4 separate regions of the Homo sapiens genome follow, and all the other regions are linked to region 1. The links come from fine-mapping of genetic effects on gene expression. A gene starts in region 1. Each other region holds a variant in brackets. All regions are shown on one strand. Distances are from middle to middle. Region 1 holds the start of MACROH2A1 (macroH2A.1 histone). Region 2 overlaps MACROH2A1 (macroH2A.1 histone). Region 3 overlaps MACROH2A1 (macroH2A.1 histone). Region 4 has its middle 22 kb from the start of DCANP1.

Region 1 (2,682 bases):
GAATTCCACCTAATTTACAACTCGAGTCTCCCATTCAAACCTAAGACTGTTAAAAAATGCCCGACTCCCTGGAGCAGGGAGCTTTGGAACAAAACACTTCCCTTACCCCCTACTTTAACGGTAAAACCTCAAACCACAAAGGTGGAAGAAAAGAGGGAAGCTAGCAGGAGTGCCCCCTCTAATTGTCTATTCTTATGTGCTGTTTACTGGGTCATTAAAATCTTACAAGGCCTTTATAGTCATTGTAATTGTTGAATTCAAGGTTTGTCCCAGTTGTTTGTACAGAAGTCTCTCACTTTGAAACTCAGAAACATTTCCCCTAACATCTTGTCTAAAAGAACCTTTCAAGCAATGTACTGACCAACTCCTTGAGTGATCTGTGGCCCCTGCAGGAGTGGGGGTAGGGAGCGCCATGTCGCACACCTGTTGTCAGGTGACACTGCCAGCAGCATCCTGCACACTCACCTCCCCACTCCACCCCACCCCCAGCGAGGCTCTTTCCTGCTGGCCTTCTCCACCCGGGGAAGCCTACAGCCTTCCGGAGTTACCTTTTAAAAAAAGCAAACCCTTCCTACCACAAAGCAAACAAAAGGCTGATACCGAGACAATCGGGAGCAGCGGGGGTTCCCGTGGCCCCTCTCCAGCCCATCCTTGGACCACTCCCCAACCCGGTCCCCCGCACCAGCCCGGCTTCAATCCCGCGAGTAGCCCCCGCCTTCCCCTCCCTGCAGATAGCGAGCCAGACGCCTACACCTCGGCCCCCCGGGGCTCGGGCCCGACTTATTGTGCCGGGGCCGGCAACTCGCGGGCCGGCGGGGGCCTCACCAAGTACAACTCTGCTCACAGCAGCTCCCGGGTGCCCAGGCCCAGACTGCCTAGCCAGCGCCGCGGGGCCTCCTGCGGCCTCGGGCCTGGCCCGTGAGCCCGCCCCAGGAAGGGTCGCCAGGGTAGGCGCCAGCACCGCTTTTTTCCCACAAAAGCGCCCAGGCGCGGGCAGGGGGATGCGTTTCGAAGAGAAGTTGGTTTCCAGGTTTCTTTTTTGAACAAAACCAAAGGGAATCCCGCGCGGCCCGACAAGGCCTGGGAGGACGTAGTGCACGCGCGAGGACCCGGCGTGGGCCACACCGAACCCGGCGGCCCGAGCCCGGCCCGCACCACACCGGTGCGCGCCAGGCCGGGCCGCTCCCGGGCACCCGCGGCCGGACCCGAGCGGCGGGGACAGGGAGTGCGGCAAGGGGGCCCGCGCGGCACTTACGCGGCGGCTCGGTGGCGGCGGCGGCAGCTGCAAGGTGTCTCGGCCTGAGCCCTCCTGGCCGCTCGCGCCTTTTCTCTCCGCGCTCCTCGCTGGCCCGCCCGCCTCTTCGCTTCCCGCCCGCGCGGCCCGCGCTCTCCCCCTCCGCCCGGCGCCGCTGCCGAGTGAACTGGAACCAGTCCTCGCGGCCGGCTTCCCACAATGCACAGCGCGCCGCTCGTCACATCCCTTCGCGGCCCCGAGCGTCCGGCCTCCGCGCCCGTGCCGCCCGGCGCCCCGGCCTTGACCCCGGGCCCGCGCCCTACCCGTTGACGCCGGCCGCTCTGCGCCCAGGCACCAGCCCGCACCCCGGACGCGAGGTCTGACCCATGACCCCGGGGACGCCCAGAGCCCAGTCCTTGGGAAGGGCCAGGCCCCTGGAGAGGAGCTTCTTCAGGGCGCGTCCCAGACTCTGCGTCTCGAGTGAACGCCTACTGTGTGCCTGGCTCTGAGCACGGGACTGTCGCTGCCACGGCATCTTTAGGAACCTTCCCACTAACCCAGTGGGAAGGCACAATGGCTGTTACCAGCGATCGCTCTTCCCTCCCCAGTCAATGCCAACTCCCCCCTGCCCCGCCTCAGAGACCCCGCTGTCTTTAGATACAGGCCACCGCCAAGCCCTGGTCTGCCCCAAGATCAATTACTGCGCACCCGGTTCCCCTGGGGTCCTTCAGTTAATCCTCCTCACCCCGAAGTCTGGAACCTGCCTTGCACATGGAAGCGGTTAGCTACTTCGCTTCAGCAAAAGTTCACTTTCGGACCCAAGTTGGGAATTACTAATGTAGACAGTGATTCCTTATCATCACACACGTTTTTTAAAAACTGCGGACAGGCCGAAAGAGGAGGAGCCGCCACAAAGCCCGCCACGTCTTCCTAAATTGGTTTACCGCCTGAAGGCATTGGTGCCCCATCCCGGGTACTTAAATGGGGGCCTGCCCTCTACTCCCCTCCCTCCAAAGTGTGGAGCCGGAAGCCACTTCTCCATCCAGCTGTGAACTAAATTTGGATAATAATACACATCCCTCAGGGTTGATGTGAAGTTTAAAGTGCCGCTACTGGGGATTATGGAGGTAATTAGAGACCCCCACCCCCACCCCCCAGTCCTCAGGCTGCGCGGGAATCGCAGCGGCAGTAACCTCCACCTCACCGGGATGCTTTACACCTTACTTTAAGAGTTTGCAAAACAATGTCCAATACCTGCCATTCATGCATTCGTTAATTCGATTAAGTACTGAGAACGTATTTTGTGTCATACATCGATTTGGGTGCTGGATATGAAACAGCCAAGAGAACAGGCAGAAATCTCTGCCCTCCTGTAGTTTGCAGTCTCGTGGGGGAAAGACAGACAAACGGGAGAATGTGTCAGAGGGTCTCCATGGGGTGGAGAAAAA
Region 2 (2,682 bases), 64 kb before region 1:
AAATGATCCTTTACATTCGGCCACGATATGAAGTGTACTGCATATTTCTTCCTGGTTAAAGTCTGCTTTAGACGCAGGCTTCTTTCTTTTCTTTCTCTTTTCTTTTTTCCTCTTTCTTTCTTTCAAGAGACGGAAAGAGTCTTCTGTGTATTTTAGGCAAATTTAGGTTAAGGTGTAAGTGCCCTTTGAAGCAAAAAGTGTCCATGTTTTGCTAACATATATTTTAGCTACTCTGGCTTGGCTGAGGTCTTCCTAGATAATCAACATCCCTCAACAGCCTTGGCGGTGAGAAGGCACGTGAAAGCTGCCAGCACATCCCAGGAGCCTTGGCTGTGGCGGCTTCTCCTTGGAAAGCTCCACGCACCCTTCTGCCAGGGATCCTGTCCTGCAGGGATGACAGACCCAGCAGCCTCGGCAGAGGGAATGAGGCTCCAGCAGCTTCATCAGCAAGTGGCCAGGCCCAGCCCTAAGTCACAGACTGTCAGAAGGGGACAATGGTAGGAGAGAGCTGGGCTCAGGGTCTGGAGCCTGCCACATGCCACCTGCACGGCTTTGGATACACTCCCTCCTTCATCTGTGGAACGGGGAATGGGGATAACACCCTGGCCCAAGGGTCACACAGAACCAAAAGGTGAGACTTTATAAAAATTCTCTCTACAAACCACTGGGGCCAGCAGATGGCCCACACCCACCCAGGTTGCAGTGAACACTGTGGAGCATCCAAGGAGTTGTGGGAGCAGGGTGGGGGTTGAGGGGGATGGACTGCCCTGCCCCCACATCCTGGGACTGCAGAAGCCGACTTAAGACCTGTGACTCACGGGCACAATAACTGGAACACACCAGTCACAACAACGGTTTAACATTTTACTAAATCAACTCACACAAATTCCAAATTGCAAATATAATTAAGGACAACAGATTCTGCTTTGCCTTATTAAATCTTTCATTTTCAAATCCATCAATAAGACAAAAAGTAACCAAAAATTAGGTCTGTTGCAAATTCATGATTCTTCTGAGGGGGGAAACCAAAAGAACATTAGAGTAAAAAGAACGCCACTGGAGGATGTACAATAAAGCACCACAACACACGCTTACAAACGGGGCTTCCTGGCTTCGGTGACAGGTAAAAGACGCTGTTCTCCCCACTGCTGTGCGTCAATCAGGGTTTCATTAAAATAAAACTATAAAATCTCCTAGGTTACACTAAGTCAGACACGGTCTGGAACACAGTGCTTAACAACAGTAATGCCAACTATCAGTGCTAACATAAAAACATTTT[A/AAAAAT]GAAGGTCAAAAACAATTAAACTGGAAACCAAAGCCTTATTTTCCCTAGATGAGCAAAACTGAAAATGAAAGGGGTCCCACCTCCCAGTAGGAGTGAAGGGGATTTTTTTTTTCTTTTAAACTGAAGGTGGGGTACATGGTGCAGCTGGTTCTGTCATTGCTCAGCCTAGTTGGCGTCCAGCTTGGCCATTTCCTGCACATAGATGCCTATACTCTCGCTGTCAAAAAGCACGAAGTACACCGTTTTGATGGAAGAGGACATTGTAGACACGAAGTAACTGGAGATGGCCTTCAGAATCAGCTGAGCTGCTGTCTGCTTTGGAAAACCGTTCCTGGAGAAGAGAAGATAAGCACTCAGCAACTGGGATGCCACGGGGGCTGCAGGACCTGCCCCACCTTACAGGCCACCTCCCTCTGTGCTGCAGCTTGCCTTGTGTTGGGTCGGTGTCTGTTGAGCCCCGTGTCTGCTTGTACGCCAGTGTGGGAAAGCCCAGTGCCCAGAAGATGGGATGGGGGACAGACAACTGGGCAGAGAGCTGGCACCTGCAGAAGGATGTGCTATGTGCTTTTAGAGAAGGCAGTAGCCAGCAAACAGAATAGTGTTTTGTGGTGTGCATTAAGCCCCCGAAGTACAGTGTAAGCTCCTGATTTTCTTTTTCCATGATACCTTTGACTAGCACAGTGCCTGAGCCATAGCCCAGGCTCTTGATGTCAGCCCCAGGGGATGGCTGCAGGTTCTCTGGGAAGGCACTGACCTCTATCCACCCACACAGAAGAGTTACCCCTTCACACCAGGGGCCACCGCCCAGGAATCCACCCTCTAACACACACCAGCGGTACCACCCCAGAGGCCAGAACGCAGGGAGCTGTGGGCTCTTCAACTCTGGGCTATCATCCAAGTTTCCAAGCCAAATGTGTTTGAATCCACACACATTTCCACTTCAAATAAATGTCGTGGCAATTTTTGGAGGTAGGTGCTCTGGACTTAAAAATGTGAAATCAGGACTGGCAAGACTGGCCCTCACTGCTCTGTGGTGTGCCTGAGGCTGCTCCTGGTCAGCATGGCATGTGGGTAGCCCAGGGGACCCCGGAGGAGATGGGCAGCTTGCCTGGTCTAGTGAAAACCTGGGTTTAGAGCCAGTGGCCCTGGATTCACATCCCTTACTGGTCCCATTTTACAGTTAAGGATACTGAGGGTGAGTCTGGGGCCAGCTCTCATGGGTAGGCTCTTTGTTCATTGGCAGATCTACAGTCACAGATCCGCCTGAGCCTGTGGGCGTGTTGGTGTCCAAAGCGCTGGGCCAACCCGCCTATTTCAGCTGGAGCTCTCCCTCACATGAGGCACCTGCTGCCAGGTGGAGGGGTTTCCAGAGGTGGTAAGGTGGGTATCTACTGTAGTACTG
Region 3 (2,682 bases), 57 kb before region 1:
CAACAAACAAGCTGTTTTATTTCCCCTCCTAAAACCCACTGTGATTTACTGGCCGGCTCTGGTGTAATCCCATTTTTTTTTACTCATGAAAGAGAGGGCAGCTGTTTACACAGCTCTATGGGGTGAGGTCTGCCTGGCAGATGTGGCCTGGGTAGCTGTACACATGTGCTGCCTTAGGCATTTCCCCCTCTTCAAGCTTTCAATTGATTATTTTTATTCCTACTTTTTACTCCATGAAAAATGTAAATAAGTTTGTAATAACAGATGCTCTTTTATGAGAATTACTTTTATGCTTCAATTAAAAATTTCCCAATACCCATATGAAAGGTTGTGAAATTATTACCTCCAATAAAGTTTCCTATTGCCTCCCTCTGCGGAAGCACCTTTCATCAGAGCAGATCAAAGTGCATTGAAAGCACTAATTAACTGAGCCTCAGAACCATTTGTGAGGATGGGCAGTCCCTATAGCCTCACTTGCTGATAAGGCAGACCAGGGCAGAGAGGCTGATTCATTTAACCAAAGGTCACACAGGATAGGAGAGCTGAGGGGCCTCACTCACAGAACCCCAGGACCAGACAGCCCAGAGATGTGAGGCCAGGGAAGGGGGAGGCAAGCCTGCCCATAGCTCAACAACTGGTGAGGGGTTGCTGGGGAAATGCTCATTCTGCTGTTTTGCCCTTGACTGGGAGAAGTGGGGGTGGCGGCGGGTGGCGGGCAGTGATACAGGCTCCAGAGAAGGTTCAGGTGCAACCAGAGATCTTTCCCCAGAGCCTGGTACTGGTGGGTCCTGCCAGTCACACATGGCCTTGGCCATAGAAAGCCCTGGGGAACGGTGGCAGTGCCCATCTGCCTGTGGACAAGGCCTTTTACTAGGCAGAATGTCAAGTGACAGGAAGCCCACTCTGTACTAGTTCTGCCACCAGTACTTGAGGTGTGGGACCTCAGTGATGGCAGCATGCAGGAGGCAAAATCACGAGGCCTGCCTAAGCGGAAAATGGCAAAATCTACTCTCTATCCTCTAGAAAGTTTGGAAGGAAAGTGCTTTGCAGAGAGCAGCTGTCAGTTCAGGACATGGTTCTGAGGACTGTTGCTCAGGCTCGCCCAGAAGGGACAGCCTGCAGTGTCATAGGCAGTTGATGCTGCACAGCCCTGCCTTCCTTGGGTGCTGGGAGGGGCTGATGGGCAGAGACCCCAGAAGGCTCACAAGCTGGGATGGGAAGCCCCAGGAGCAGTGGCAGGTACTCTGTCCAAAGCAAGCCACCTGCCAATACAGAACCCCAGGTTATGGCTCCTCTTGGGCGCAAGTTGTTAACAGCTACAGCCTCTAAAGGCCAGTTTCTCTTTGCTTCAGTGCCCAATGCAGACCTCGAGCCTTCCAGAGGCCTTGGACTCTTGGACTTAGACCCTTGGTAGGGAGGACCCTAGCAATGGGCAGTGGGACAC[A/G]ATCTCAGAGGTGGCTCTGCCCTGACAGGTCCTCATGTCTGCATCATGGGACACACTTCTGAAAGCACTCTGCCTTCTAAGAGCTCCTTTAATTTCTAGAGCAACCCTGAGATACTGCATGGGGGGATTATTATGCCAACTTCTCAGAATGGGGGTTAATTTACATGTCATCACTCACCGGGTTAGTGGCCAAGCCAGGATGCAACTCCAGGCCTGACCCCTAAGCCAGAGTGCAGTGCTGCTCCAACAGGCAGGAACCTGATAGGTTATTTGCTGACATGTGTGGGGTGTACAACCAGGTAGGTATTGTGGGGGTTGCCCTGAGCCCTACCTGCATCATCAGCTGTCGAAAAACTAGACTTCTCCTGTGGTGGTCCTCCGGGTATGTGTATGTCTTAGGGGCAACTGTGTTGGTCGTGAAGACCTTGGTGAGTCTACCTGGGGATTTTCTGGGACAGGAAGTGGAGTAGGGCCCAGCCCTGTTTCAATCTCACGTAATTCCCCATTCCGTTCCACCAGGTCCCATTACCTCATTAGCAGGCCAGCAGGGTTACCCTAGGGCAGTAAGACAGGGAGTCAGGTAGAGATGCAGGTTCTCAGGAGGTGAAATATACTTGTGAGTAGAAAGGAAAGGGGCAGAGGGCTTTATCCAAAGAATACTGTGGTTTGGGGGACAGACCATAACACAGCTATAGCCTTATTCTGAGACAGCCAAGCTGTTCGTTTGTATCCCTGTATTCACGCCTCCAGATCTTCTCCACCCAAGTCACTGTGCCCCTCAAAACTTACTCTCTGAGGTACCATTTCTGTGGTCCCAGTACACACTGGGTTCCCCTTCTGTGATGACATTTGCTATCAAAACTTAAGTTTTATATCATCCTTGGGATTTGGGTCTCTCTAATTGTCCCTCACCATCATTTAATGTCTGCATTCTTCCCTGTGTTGTGCTTCTGGTCTCCTTGGTTAAGGCAGCCTCCGTGGGCCTTGCACAGAGTGAGAGCACCACAATTATGGGCCATGTGTGCGCAGAGAGACACACCCATGACCGATACGTAACAAGCATGTGCCCCTACCTGCCGCTGCCGATGGATGGAAATGCAATGGATTTCAGCTTCTTATCATCAGCCAGGGCCAAGCAGTTTTTCACTGTCTTTTCCAGAAGTTCTTCACACTTGTCTGCACCCCAAACTGGACTATTACAGTGGATCACAAACTTGGCAGGCAGGCCATGGCCTGCG
Region 4 (2,682 bases), 26 kb after region 1:
TATATGTACATATGTAATAACCCACATATATATTTATATACATACATGTCTGCAATTATTTCTGTCTCTCTCCATCTGTATCTATTTTAAGCTACTCATGAGTTCATACTGCTGTCTGCACTAATCTACAACCACATGCTTCATTCCAGCCTTCCCCACATGCGTCTCTGCAACCTCTAGCTCTAACAGTGGGAAACCTGGCTTCCACCCCCTCTCTCTGTTTCATTTACTCATTTGTTCATTCCCATCATATATGTGCAGCAGGTTCAGAATTGTTAACCTATATCCCTGTGAGGAACAGCTTCACTAGTAAAGTTTCTTATTTCTGCGCAGTTCCTTTTGTCATTAATCTTGCAGTTTCCAATCAAAACACCATTTTCCAAACATTTTGATATTTCTTTGTCATAAATATTTTGCATTAATTTTGATTTTTAAAATATTGCAATTATAGATTATTTATGACAAGTATTAAGTTTTTTTTGAGCCCCCTTGCATTTTGCACCCAGAGGGAGTCCCTCACTGGACTTTATCTTAGTCTTGCCTTTCCAGGGGCAGATCTCCATAATCCAATCAGAGATTGAAATGATTTAATATTGGAAGCTAGATTTGGCTAGAGTTGGTCTAGTTCTGGTCCACTCGTTGTATCAAATACCTCTTACATTCTTTCTCAGATCCTATGAGTTTCGCCTGTCTTTAGGGCTATTGGTTACCTGTTCAGCCCTGGCCAACACAAGGGTTACTGACTCTGAAAAAGGCATTCAAGTCAGCATTATTCTAACACATGAGTCTGCTGTGAAGTGTCTCTGGCTTCCCCTACAGCTTTTACACCCAGATGTAAAGGGTGTGGGATATGTCTGTCTTGGCACTGCTAAAGGGATTGGCGTATAATATGGAAATGTAGGAGTTAACCCTCTATGGAGTGAACTTTTACTCTAGGGGACAAGAGATGCAAGGCACTGGCAGGAAAATTCTCAACCTGCATACCCTTGGAAGGACTGTTCAGAGACACATAGCATTTCCCATGAAATGGAGCAGTCAGCTGTGATTGTTGTAAAGCTCAGTGATCCACTTCCTTATATATGTTCATCCTACTCTGCTTCACTCACCTTTCTTCCTCACTCCAGCTTCCCTGCAATTGTATTTCCTAGGAAGCATGCAAGCTTTTTCTTTGGGCTCTGCATTCTAGGAAACCTGGGCCAAGATTCTCTTATTCCTATGCTGTAGATATTCGAGATCCCAGCTTAAAACCTGAGCTGCTTATCATAGCCTCTCCTGATTGGCAAATCTTGAATTCTAATTTTTGTACCTGCACCCAGGTGAGAGATGGCCAAAAGTTCTTCTCAGCTTCTCAGCTGGACCTTTCTGACCAGCTTTTCAACCAAAAAGTTTGAAATGGCAAATATCCCAAGGAGAAGGACTGCTGAAAATTGGGCTTCCTTGGCTGGGCGTGGTGGCTCACGCCTATAATCCCAGCACTTTGGGAGGCCAAGACCAGGAGTTCAAGACCAGCCTGGCTAACATGGTGAAACCCCATCTCTACTAAAAATAAGAAAACTAGCAGGGCATGGTGGTGGGCACCTGTAATCTCAACTACTCAGGAGGCTGAGGCAGGAGAATCGCTTGAACCCGGGAGGTGGAAGTTGCAGTGAGCTGA[G/C]ATTACGCCATTGCACTCCAGCCTGGGCAACAAGAGTGAAACTCTGTCTTAAGAGAAAAAAAAAGAAAGAAAGAAAGAAGGAAAGAAAGAAAGAAGAGAAAATTGGGCTTCCTTCTCCCCTAGATCTTGCTTCTGGAGGTCTGTCATTACTCTTCAATGCCATCACACAGATTAAATGACATATTTTTGTCCTTTTCTAGTTATTTTCAGCTAAAGGCTTGGCCTGGAAAAAAGCTAGCTCCCCATTCTAGGAAGCAGAACTCTCAACCCTTGGTTTTAACAGGAAACCACAGGGTAATGCTGGAGAAACTGCTGTTTTCTTGTAGACTCTTGCAGGCCCCAGACCCAACAGAGAACAAAATGGGGCCTGTCCCGTTGTGTGCCTGTCTTCTTCTTTCTGTTTTTTCTCAGTGTCTTCATTTTCTAACAGCTCTACGTGTTTGGATGTTTTGGTAGGTGGTAGCTTGAGCACATTTTTTCCTTGCCTTATGCAAGCAGGTCTTTCAGCTGGAGAATTTTTATACGTGTTGGAAAAATATGGGCAGAGTTAGTTGTGAGGACAATTGCAAAGGAGATGGAAGCTGGGGGGTAGGTGTGAAAGGAGCTTTCTGTGCTGTCTCCCATCCTATTGTTCGGGAACCTGTCCACAATTCTAGTGTCTGCCTCTGGCCCCTTTCTATAAATGTTGACTCCATTTCTCACTGTCATGAGGATTCAGGTATTATGTGCACCAGCTATTACATAGTATCGCCCTCTGGTGGTACAGAACTGTTAGCCCCTGTATTAAAGGGGTCCAGAACGTTGCTATTACATGCTCTTTGTCAACAAGGGAGGAGACAGAACAATAGTTTTTTAAAAAGGACTACCAAATCTCACATTTTATAAGAATGAATCTTTCTCCATTGATCTGCTGCCCTAATGACCTGGGAAAGAGGTGAATTGCCCTTGTTAAAACTGTTTCTGATTTATGAGTCAATAGGTAACAGGCAAGAGGCCACTGTAGCTTCTCAGATTTTTAAAAATACTTT

Evidence for each region. PIP is the estimated chance that this variant, and not a neighbour inherited with it, causes the effect.
Region 2: its variant is fine-mapped to the expression of MACROH2A1 in whole blood (INTERVAL, PIP above 0.99). The same link has a PIP of 0.9 or more in hippocampus, pancreas, sun-exposed skin, tibial artery, tibial nerve and unexposed skin.
Region 3: its variant is fine-mapped to the expression of MACROH2A1 in whole blood (TOPMed, PIP 0.96).
Region 4: its variant is fine-mapped to the expression of MACROH2A1 in whole blood (TOPMed, PIP above 0.99).

What each region holds. Positions count from the first base shown.
Region 1 is chr5:135,397,807-135,400,488 of GRCh38, forward strand. It overlaps MACROH2A1 (macroH2A.1 histone), which reads right to left and starts at 1,425. Exons shown (of 9, transcript NM_138610.3): 1 at 1,256-1,425. RefSeq lists silencers at 761-820, 1,131-1,300, 1,311-1,770 and enhancers at 1,671-2,176, 2,177-2,682.
Region 2 is chr5:135,333,531-135,336,212 of GRCh38, forward strand. It overlaps MACROH2A1 (macroH2A.1 histone), which reads right to left. Exons shown (of 9, transcript NM_138610.3): 9 at 851-1,611. The coding sequence ends at 1,446. It overlaps PITX1-AS1 (PITX1 antisense RNA 1), which reads left to right. Exons shown (of 6, transcript NR_161235.1): 4 at 228-631. Among named protein-coding and RNA genes, the nearest start is that of MACROH2A1, 64 kb to the right of the region's middle. The variant A/AAAAAT (reference allele first, on the strand shown) is at 1,280.
Region 3 is chr5:135,340,743-135,343,424 of GRCh38, forward strand. MACROH2A1 (macroH2A.1 histone) reads right to left here. Exons shown (of 9, transcript NM_138610.3): 8 at 2,518-2,682. It overlaps PITX1-AS1 (PITX1 antisense RNA 1), which reads left to right. Exons shown (of 6, transcript NR_161235.1): 6 at 2,413-2,682. Among named protein-coding and RNA genes, the nearest start is that of MACROH2A1, 57 kb to the right of the region's middle. RefSeq lists an enhancer at 1,697-2,682. The variant A/G (reference allele first, on the strand shown) is at 1,445.
Region 4 is chr5:135,423,878-135,426,559 of GRCh38, forward strand. No RefSeq gene overlaps it. Among named protein-coding and RNA genes, the nearest start is that of DCANP1, 22 kb to the right of the region's middle. RefSeq lists an enhancer at 2,281-2,330. The variant G/C (reference allele first, on the strand shown) is at 1,655.